2 separate regions of the Homo sapiens genome follow, and region 1 is linked to region 2. Evidence: fine-mapped expression QTL. A gene starts in region 2. The other region holds a variant in brackets. All regions are shown on one strand. Distances are between the middles of the regions.

Region 1 (5,513 bases), 45 kb after region 2:
AGCATGATACAGACACAGGAGGGGGCAGGTCAGCCCTGGAGAATCCGTGGAGAAAGGAAGCTGGTGCCCCGCCTGGGGCAGGTGAGTGGAATGGGCAGGGAGACTGAGTGGCCACTGTTGCCCTGGTGCCAGGCAGCCAGCACCGGAGGTGGGTATGGGGCCTGTGAGAGGGCAGTTCTGAGTGCTGTGGAGCCAAGCAGAGGAGCAGTGGGCTGGAGAGAAAGGAGGGTGAGGTTGGCACAGTGGGGAGGAAGAAGGAGGCAGGTGGGCATGGGGGGCCCCTGGGGTACCTGAGTGCCACTGCAGGCGGAGGGCGGAGGGAGGGAGCTGAGGAGAGGACCAGAGAGGCCCAGGTCAGGGTTGAGCCGGGAGGATGGCTTGCTTTCATTCACTCAGCAAACACTGTCAGAGCCCTCTCTGTTCCAGTCTGGGGACAAGTGCTGGGGCGCTGCGGTGAACAAGACAGGCAGCACCGTCCCTCCTGGAGGATTTTCCCTCTTGGACTTATTCCAGCAGAACCTGGGAAACACTCTATATGTTCAGCAGTTGGGGATTGTTAGGGGGCTGGAGGGAGCAGTCATCCTATGGGCTGTCAGATGACGCGATTATCCATTTATTTGTCCAGAAAGATGCGGATAATCTGTTATTCGTGGGGAAGGCAGCTGCAAAGACTGCAGGTGAAGGACAATGCTTTTTTGTAAAAAAGCAGAAATCTGCATTCTTGATCCGTCCGTCTGTCTGTCCATCTACATGAACACAGGCCCAGGTAGTGATGAGCTTATCTCTGGGTGGTGGGGATATGAGGGTTTTTGGAAAATTCTTAATGCTTTTCCTGCTTCCAAAGATAGTTATGAAAATGCCAACATGGCCGGGCATGGTGGCTCGCCTGTAATCCCAGCACTTTGGGAGGCTGAGGCAGGCGGATCACGAGGTCAGGAGATTGAGACCATCCTGGCCAACATGGTGAAACCCCGTCTCTACTAAAATACAAAAAATCAGCCGGGTGTGGTGGCACACGCCTGTAATCCCAGCTACTCGGAAGGCTGAGGCAGGAGAATCGGTTGAATCCGGGAGGGGGAGGTTGCGGTGAGCCGAGATTACACTACGGCACTCCAGTCTGGGCAACAAAGCAAGACTCCGTCTCAAAAAAAAAAAAAAAAAAAAAAAAACCCTAACATTACTGAACCACAAAAGAAAAAGTAGTGGCGGGTCAGTTTTAACCTTGCTTTATGTTTTTCGTATTTGATTTTTAAATCTTTCTACCATATCCACATACTACTTTTGTAATAAGAAAAAAAAAGAAAGGAAACTGAATAAAAAGATCTCCCCGCTAACAAGCGCCGGAGGATGGTGCATCTTGGGCAGAGAGGAGGGGGCTTGTCCTTCTAGTCAGGAGGGAGAGGAAGGAGAGGGGCCTTGCTCACATCTGTTGGGATAAAGGAAGGGGAGGTGAGTTCTTGGTAGGTGCTTTGGCCCAGAGACCCCCTGAGAGGGAGTGGGCAGTCGGGGCTGGGGGATTCAGGGAGTGAGAGGTATTGGGGAAAAGTGTTTGAGAGTCCATGTGAGCTGGACCCAGGGAGAGGAGGCAGCCTAGATCCTGATTCCTCAGGGGGCCTTTGGACTGGGGAGAGTTGTGGCCAGCAGTTCCCTGGCGGGCATCTGCAGCCTTCCTGGTGACCTCTGGGACCCAGCTTCTGTTCTCAGGACCCCAGCACATGTGAGTTGGATCCAGAATTCAGTCCCAAAGTTGAGGTGCTCTTTCTCCTGCCTGGGCCCTGGATGGGGGGTTTGGTGGTTAAGAACCAAGGGACGAACGGTTCAATTTCTCTCAGTGCTTGTGATGCTGCTGGGAGTATTTTCCTGAATCCCAGTGAAGAGGCGAAGCCCCTGATGGGTCCAGCTTCATCCACCATCCTCCCCTGAGCAGGTGACATCAAGGGATACCTGGGACAACACCCAGGAGTAGACGGACCTGTGAGGATGGGGCTCAGAGCTGCGGCGATGAGACGTACTCCACAGTGGCTGGGGCTCTGGGAGGCTTCCTCTCCTGGCAGGGCAGCTGGCTGTATCCCCAGTTCTGGCCCCGAGGCCGGGCCTTTGCTGGCCTGTAGTGAGATCTCCCAGTCTGAGCCTGGACAGATTTCTTGACCCTTGTTATTTACATGAGACAAAGTTGGGGCTTTTCAAAAGGGACACTGCAAAGGCAGGCCGAGTGCAGCACCTCATCTCCAGGTAACTGGACCCAGCCCCGGGCAGGACAGGCAGGTGGGCGGGCTGCGGACGGAACAGCCTGCTCCTGCTCCCCACCTCTGCTTGGTGAGATTGGGCCTGGCCCTTGCTGGGCTGACGGACTGCGCACACCCTCTAGAGCCAGCTCCTGCCCTCTGCAAGGGGTGGGGAGCGTGGTGGCCAAGGTGTGCGTGGGCTCTGGAGTGG[C/G]TCTTGCATTTCCCTCTGTGTGACCTTGAGCCATGACTGAACCCCTCTGAGCCTCAGTTTCCTTACGTATAAACAAGGTAAGTAAACATGGCCTTACAGGGTGGATGTACCAGACACCGAACGGACACAGCCCAGGGCTTTGCTGGCACCGTCTCATTGAATCTCCGCAGGCCACCCTGCGAGGTGGGCATGTGGCAACCGAGCCATGGGGGAATTCCTTGGTGGTAAGTGGGTTTCAAACCTGGGCCATCAGGCTCCAGCGTGGACATTTCTTTCTTTCTTTCTTTCTTTTTTTTTTCTTTGAGACAAGAGTCTTGCTGTGTCATCCAGGCTGGAGTGCAGTGGTGCCATCTCTGCTCACTGCAACCCCCAACTCCTGGATTCAAGCGATTCTCCTGCTTTAGCCTCCCAAGTAGCCAAGATTACTGGTGTGCACCACCACACCCGGCTAATTTTGTATTTTTAGTAGAGACGGGGTTTCACCATGTTGGCCAGGCTGGTCTCGAACTCCTAACCTCAGGTGATCCACCCACCTTGGCCTCCCAAAGTGCTGGGATTACAGGCATGAGCCACTGTGCCCAGCTCAGTGTGGACATTTCTACCCACTGAGCCCAATAATGGCTGTGAATCTGTCCCACGAACGTTTACTGAGCACTTGCTCTGCCAGGCTCCAAGGAGACCCCAAGGACCATGGAGGAGGCAGATGCGGTTCCGTCCCTCATGGAGGTTTAAGGAGGACACGGGGCATGTGGGGAGCTGTGGGAATGTCGTGGACAGGGTGGAGAGCCTTCCTTGAAGGCAGGATGAGGGCTCCGGCAGCAAGGCTGGGAGGTGTGCTGGGTGTCTGGAGCTGGGGCGGTCGTTCCCTTGCTGGCTACTGGCCCCAGGCCTGGCTTCTGCCCGGACTGTGGTGGCCTGGCCATTCCTTCAGGAGTGGCTCCTGCCCTACTCCATGCAAATTCCTGGTCCCCATGTCTCAGTTGCCACTGCTGCTCCAGGCCCCAGCAGCTGTCTGCCCCCTGATGTCTGGGGGTTCCCGCAGCGAGCCTGGAGCTTGTGGCTCCTGCATGCGGCCTATGTGTCTGGCCCTGAGCTAAGTGCTTCGAAGCTTCTCTTGCCTCATCCTCACAATGGGCGCTGATGTCCTCATTTCACAGAAGGGTCTGGGGTCTCTTTCCCGCCAAAGCTCGTGCTCCTGCAGCCTCTCCACGGGGCCTGACCTGAGGGCTCGGGTGGCATGGGCTGCCGTGTGCTGCCTGTCCCCACTGTGGTGGCCTGAGAGCCCTCCTCCACTCCACTTCACTCTACCCCCTCCCCCTCCTCCTCCTCTTCCTCCTGCTCCTGCACCCATCTCTCCAGGACTGGCCCCAGACCCTGGGCTTCTCTGAGAGGCACCTCTTCCAAGGGCCCAGTTTCTTTTTGGAGGCAGGGCCGATTTGCACAAAGATGACGAAGACGCATGACAGCAATGACTCTCTGGCTGGTAGCGTGCCTCTTGGTGTGTGCAGATTGTGCTTTATGTGTCACCTCGTGGAGTCCCCACAGTGAGCCGAGAAGGTGGCATCACATTCCCAGTCAAGGGCTTTTGGTGGTGGGGCTCAGATCTTAGTGGCGTCCCAGGGCCTCCAGCTTGTCCAAGTGGGTTCAGGGTGGTGCCCAGGTTTGTCTGACACCAGGTCCTACAAAGGCCAGCATGGTGGGGTACCCGGAGCTGGGCAAGGGAAAGATTGGCTATGGCCACGTGGCTCCTTGTTCTCCCCAAGGCAGTCTGTCTCTGCGGACAGCCATCAGGCCCCAAATCCAGGCGTCATCCTTTTTATTTTTTGAGACAGGATCTTGCTCTGTCACCCAGGCTGGAGTGCAGTGGCTCGATTTCAGCTCACTGCAAACTTTGCCTCCCAGGTTCAAGTGATTCTCCTGGCTCAGCCTCCCTAGTAGCTAGGATTATAGGCCTGCACCACCACGCCTGGCTAATTTTGTATTTTTAGTAGAGACCGGGTTTCACCATGTTGGCCAGGCTGGTCTCCAACTCCTGGCCTCAAGTGATCCACCTGCCTCAGCATCCCAAAGTCCTGAGATTATAGGAGTGAGTCACCGTGCCTGGCCCAGGTGTTATCTTTTTTATTTTTATTTTTTGAGACAGAGTCTTGCTCTGTCGTCCAGGCTGGTGCAGTGGCACAATCATAGCTCACTGCAGCCTTGGCCTCGTTTACCCTCTATTGCTTGAGAGTTTACTCTCCTGGGTCCACACCTGGGACTACAGGTGTGCACCATTATGCCCAGCTAAATTTAAGAAACTTTTTTTCTGTAGAGACAGGGTTTCCCTATGTTGCCCAGGCTGGTCTCAAACTCCTGAGCACAAGTGATCCTCGTGCCTCGGCCTCTCAAAGTGCTGGGATTATTACAGGTATGAGCTACCATACCTGGTGCAGGTGTTATCCTGAATTCCTTTCTTTTCCTCTACCTCTCAAATCCAACCCATGAGCAGGTCCTATTGGGTCTCCCTCCAAATTGTAACCCAAATCTGCCCGCAGCCAGGGAGCACGGTCAGCTCTCCCAGGAGCGCTGGCCAGCAGCATCTCCTCTCTGCTCTCCTGACTCCACTCTGCCACTGTCCCTGGGCTCTACCCTGAGGTGCTTAAAGGTGATTCTACCCTGAGGTGCTTGAAGGTCACTCCCATCAGATCCCTACTTGAAGGGTGGCTCCTGACTGTGCACAGAAGGCCCCACGAGGTGATGAGCCACTGTGCCCCCGCCCCACTCGCCCACTCCCGTACTTCAGTCATGTTGCCCTCTCTCTGGTCCTCCAGAATGTCTTTTTTTTGTTTGTTTTTGAGACAGAGTCTCGCTCTGTCACCCAGGCTGGAGTGCAGTGGCGCGATCTCGGCTCACTGCAAGCTTCGCCTCCCGGGTTCACACCATTCTCCTGCCTCAGCCTCCCGAGTAGCTGGGACTACAGGCGTCCGCCACCACACCCGGCTAATTTTTTTGTATTTTTAGTAGAGACGGGGTTTCACCGTGTTAGCCAGGATGGTCTCGATCTCCTGACCTTGTGATCTGCCCGCCTTGGCCTCTCA
Region 2 (5,000 bases):
GAGAGAAAGAGAAAGTCCAGGAGGCCCTGGAGTGGGCAGAGACAGGAGGGCCCGAGGCTGCTCTTGCAGTGGGCAGGCGAGTGGCAGGAGCTCTGTTCCATACCTTCTCTCTCTGCTGCCCGTCCTCCTCCATGGCAGGACTGAGGTTCTGGGCCCTGTCTGTCTGCCTTGGCTGGATCTCTAAGCCTAACTGTGCTACAAAGTGAGTGAGCAGAACCTAGCCAGAGGCAGCCACTTGCCTGGGCTGGAAAGAGAAGACAAGAGCCAAGATTCAGCGGGAGGCAGGTGGCAGTGGCGATGGCTGTGGTGGAATCGGGGGTTGTGGCAGTGGCAGGGGAAGCTCCTGGACTCTAGAAGCTGCTCCACCCTCCCGAGCTCCCAGAAGTAGAGGAATGGGGAGCAGGTGAGAGGGCTAGTGGGGGGGCATTCCAGTAGAAGGGAACCTGGAAAGTTCTTTCCTTTCTTCTCTGCATGGGCTCAGTGCCAGGGAGTCAGGACAAAAGGTAATAAAAAATCCACCTGTCAGAATCTGCGAAGATCGTTTTGATGAGGGAAAACTTGGCTGGAGGACAGAGACTGCCTGGCCGCTGAGGTTACACCACAGCCCTGGGATCGGTCCTGAAATTAGGGTTGGTGCAAGGGAGCAGACACCAGGAAAAGGCCATCAGTGGATGGGACAGCCAGAAGCCCTGCCTATTTCCTGTTTCTCTCCAGGACTCCTGGGACCCATCTGAGCCATCCCTCTACGAACACTCATTTTTTCCTGAGCTGTGGCTCATTCAGCTAGGGTCCAAGAGCGGAGGACTTTTGGTATGAAAAATAAACCAAAGGACACTGGGATTGGGCTGGATTTGAATGAGCAGGTCCAGGGGACTCTGGGCAAGTCCCTCCTTGCCTCAGTTTCCCTGCAGGAAGGTAACCAGTCCAGTCGGATGGTCCTGGAGGATGATCTAGAGGCTGTTTGTGGGATGGATGCAGCTTGGGAGACAGTGACAAGGGTGCGGTGGAGGCTCAGGGTGTTGCAACACCTAAAAGAGCCTCTAGGCCTGAGCCTGGATGCACCCTCCGCCCTCTGGCCCCGTAGTGTGTGTCTGAGACAGAGTGAGACACCAGCAACATATGCTTGGATCAGGGACGGAAGGGACTGAAATTAGGCTAGCATCCGGGCTGCTCACCGGGGAGGACTGAGGGGTAGATATAGCCAGGGTGGGGAAGGGGGCTAGAGGGGAGGATATAGCCAGGGTGGGGAAGGGGGCTGGAGGGAAGGATACAGCCAGGGTGGGGAAGGGGGCTGGAGGGGAGGGAGACCATGGGGCTGCCACCTGCCAGTTCTGAGGCCTTTCTAGCTTGATGCCTCCGCGTGTTTCTCTGGCCACACACAATTCCCCAGGGACCGTCTGATAAACCAAAGGAGTGTGACCAACTGGACAGGGTCGGAGGAGTGGCTCTGGCCTAAGCGTGCGACGGGTGTGTCAATCGGAGAATAACTGGGAGAGTGAGCTAGGGTCTGGATGCTCCTGGTCTCTCTCCCCTACCGGCCTGTCTCTGGGTCTAAGGGTGGGGGTGCTAACTGAAGCCGGGGTCCCCCTTGTCTTTCCTGGGTCGTTGGAACTGAATGCTCCAGGACGTGGGTTTAATCCCGCTTCTGACCTTGCGCCCCAATCTCCTGCTCTGCCAAACCTGGGACGCCCGCCTGACCCCACCCCATCAGCTGGAGGCCGGGTCGAACAGCGGCCGCAGGACGCGGTCTCCGTTCCCGGACGCAACCGCACGGCCCGCCCAGGCCGTCCAGGGCCCTCAGGCCCGGGATCCGCCGCACTCACCACGGTCCTGGCAGCGAAGGCTAACATCTTCGCTGCCCGTCCGCGGACACGCAGTCCGCTCCGCCCCACACACCGGGCAAAGTCCGCGCCGCCGCCGCCGCGGCTGGGGTCGGTGGGTCCTTGCTAGAGCCTTCGGGCCAAGGTCGCTGAGTTACAGCCGCCAGCCGGTAGAGGCAGCCCCGCGCCCACCCTCTGGGCCGAGCGGGCTGCGGGAAGGCACCCGGGGAGGAGGACTCGCGAGGCGGGGCCTGGGCCGGTAGCGGGCCCCGGGCGGGCAACGGTGCCCGGGAGGTTGGCTGTGGGGCGGGGACGGGGCATCGATGGGGCGGAGTCTCCTTGAGGAGGGACAGGAGGGGCGGGGACGGAGGGGCGGGGCGTCGCCCGGTAGCGGGTCGCAGTAGGCTGGCTGCGAGTCGGGGGCGGGACCACGGCGGGCGGGGACAGAGGGGCAGGGCCGAGGGCGAGTCATTGAGACCTGTGGAGGAGGAAGGAGGAGGTCACCGTCCAGCTGTCTCTCCCCTGTCCCCACATGTCTTCTAAGCTGTTGGAGGTAGTGGTGTGCACCTTTCCAACTCCGTCTGGTGTCCTTGAGCCTAACTCTTAGAGTGATAGGAAAACACAACCATGTTGACCGGGGAATGTCCTCTAATATTCCTTGGGTTAGGGTCAGTACCACCCACAAAGATGACAGGTGGTACTCCGGGACAGGAGACTGTCCCGGAAAAACATGGCTGAGCACAACCCAAACTTGACGCCCCGCACAATCGTGGCAGTCGCGGCGCCCGACGTTCGGGCGGCCGTGAGCGGTCCTAGCGCTTGGCGGCCGTTGGCGCGCATGCGCCCCGCGCGCCCCGCACTGACATGGCCGTCGCCCGGTTCCGCGCGTCCGCCGCGCGCCGGCCGTTAATAGGCTTGCTCCCTGAGCGCCCCGCACCGACATGGCGGCCGTCTTCGCTGTGGTGACTTTAACTCTCGGTTTTCGGTTATAGCCGGCCGGCGCTCACTTGTCTTCAGGAAGCTCGGAGCCTTTGGTGGAGCCGGGGAGAGGAAGGGTGGGTGCAAGAGTGAAAGGCGAGAGGGGACTGCAAGCATCCGGGTCGGCTCCTGGCCGGAGCAAGATGGCTGAGGGCGAGCGGCAGCCGCCGCCAGGTAAGGCCGGCGGGGCCAGGCCGGGCCGGGGTCGGGTAGGGTGGGGGCGGTGCCAGGTGTGGGAGGCTCAGGAGGGCGAGAGTCATGACACGGAGGAACTGGAGGGGCAAAAGCTGAGGGGCCCCGAGGAGGGACTGAGTTGAATGGCCTTAGGGGAGAGGTGGGTGGTGGGGCGCCGCTGGGGAGGGAACCAGGGGCTGCAAAGGGGTGGTGATTGGGGCGCAACTCTGGGTTTTGTGGGAGTCCAGGCTGCCCGAATGCTGGGTGGGCAGCGCCGTGGTCATAAGGGGGCCTTTTGCATCTCTGGGCAGCGCGTGCTTAAGTAAGCTGCTGACTCGGTGGGGAAGCTGCCAGGGAGGGGGGCGAAAGTGATTCCGGAGGCTGCCGTCTTTATTAGTCGCTGCTTAGGGGATGGGGTGGTGCTCCGTGGGCCTGCGCCCGCCTCGCCTCCAGTTTCGGCCTCCGCGTCCTGCTCACCCCTCATCCTCCTACTCTCTGGTTCCAGTGCCTGAGAATTTATTGAGGGAAACTGCCCGTGGTGTCTAAATCCCTAATTTTAAAAGGCTGGTTGTGCAAGGAGGTTAGTCTCTCCGGCATCTCCTTCGGTAACTCTTATTTACCTTGTAGCCTCTTTTTAGTTCATCTTAAATAACTGGGATGGAGGTGCTACGGAAGGATCTTAGAGACCCTTTTTGTGCAGAAGGAGAAGGCTGTTTGCCGACCTACCTTGAACTAAGAAGGACTGGCCATAGATAACTTTTACATTCCCGACAGAGGCAAATAGGTTGGCCGACCAAACACAGCTAATGTTTTGAAAGCATTTGATATTCTTGCTATCCTGTCTCCAATGTTGGGGTCCCTGGGAAGGTCTCAGGAGGGAGAAATGTTGAAAATCAGAAAAGGCATCCCCTCCATGCCCCACAAAAGAGGTGAACAAAGAGCTGGGTTCCGTTTCTTAGGACATTCAAAACCAGACATTTATTTTGTACAAAACCTCTGGGTGTGTGCCCTTAGAACAAGGATGTCCAGGCCAGGCGCGGTGGCTCATGCCCGTAATCCCAGCACTTTGGGAGGCCGAGGCGGGCTGATCACCTGAGGTCGGGAGTTCGAGACCAGCCTGACCAACATGGAGAAACTCCGTCTCTTCTAAAAATACAAAATTAGCCGGGCGTGGTGACACACGCCCGTAATCCCAACTACTAGGGAGGATGAGGCAGGAGAATCGCTTGAACCTGGGAAGCAGAGGTTGCGGTGAGCTGAGATCGCGGCATTGCACTCCAGCCTGGACAACAAGAGTGAAACTCCGTCACCCCCCAAAAAAAAAACCGGGGTGTCCACTCTTTTGGCTTCTCTAAGCCACATTGGAAGCAGAATTGTCTTGGGTCACACATAAAATACACTAACACTAACGATGGCTGATGAGCTAAAAAAAAAGTCGCAAAAAAAAAAATCTCATAATGGTTTTGTGTTTCTTTTTTTTGAGACAGTGTCTCACTCTGTCCCCCAGGCTGAAGTGCAGTGGCATGGTCTCGGCTGACTGCACCCTCTGCCTCCCGGGTTCAAGCGATTCTCCTGCCTCAGCCTCCTGAGTAGCTGGGACTACAGGTGCGCCACCATGCCTGGCTAATTTTTGTATTTTTAATAGGGACAGGGTTTCACCATATTGGCCAGGCTGGTCTCGAACTCCTGACCTCGTGATCCTCCTGCCTCGGCCTTCCAAAGTGCTGGGATTACAGGCATGAGCCACCGTGCCTGGCCTATGTTTTAAGAAAGTTTACAAATTTGTGTCCGGCTACATTCAAAGCTGTCCTGGGCTGTGGGTTGAACAAGCTAGCCTTAGAAGTTCTGGTGATGACTCCGGGCACAGTGGCTCACACCTGTAATCCCAGCACTTTGGGAGGCCGACACAGGCGGATCACTTGAGGTCAGGAGTTCGAGACCAGCCATGGCCAACATGGCAAAACCCCGTCTGTATTCAAAATACAAAAATTAGCTGGGTGTGGTGGCACACGTCTGTAATCGCAGCTA

The links. PIP is the estimated chance that this variant, and not a neighbour inherited with it, causes the effect. A credible set is the group of variants that fine-mapping cannot tell apart.
Region 1: its variant is the best candidate, but not a certain one, in a credible set for the expression of CRAT in esophagus muscle (GTEx, PIP 0.50).

The regions. Positions count from the first base shown.
Region 1 is chr9:129,152,999-129,158,511 of GRCh38, forward strand. No RefSeq gene overlaps it. Among named protein-coding and RNA genes, the nearest start is that of IER5L, 23 kb to the right of the region's middle. The variant C/G (reference allele first, on the strand shown) is at 2,437.
Region 2 is chr9:129,108,660-129,113,659 of GRCh38, forward strand. CRAT (carnitine O-acetyltransferase) reads right to left here and starts at 2,134. Exons shown (of 14, transcript NM_000755.5): 1 at 1,824-2,134. The coding sequence starts at 1,850. It overlaps PTPA (protein phosphatase 2 phosphatase activator), which reads left to right and starts at 2,756. Exons shown (of 10, transcript NM_178000.3): 1 at 2,756-2,972. The coding sequence starts at 2,942. RefSeq lists silencers at 1,890-2,329, 3,020-3,069 and enhancers at 2,740-3,019, 2,952-3,492.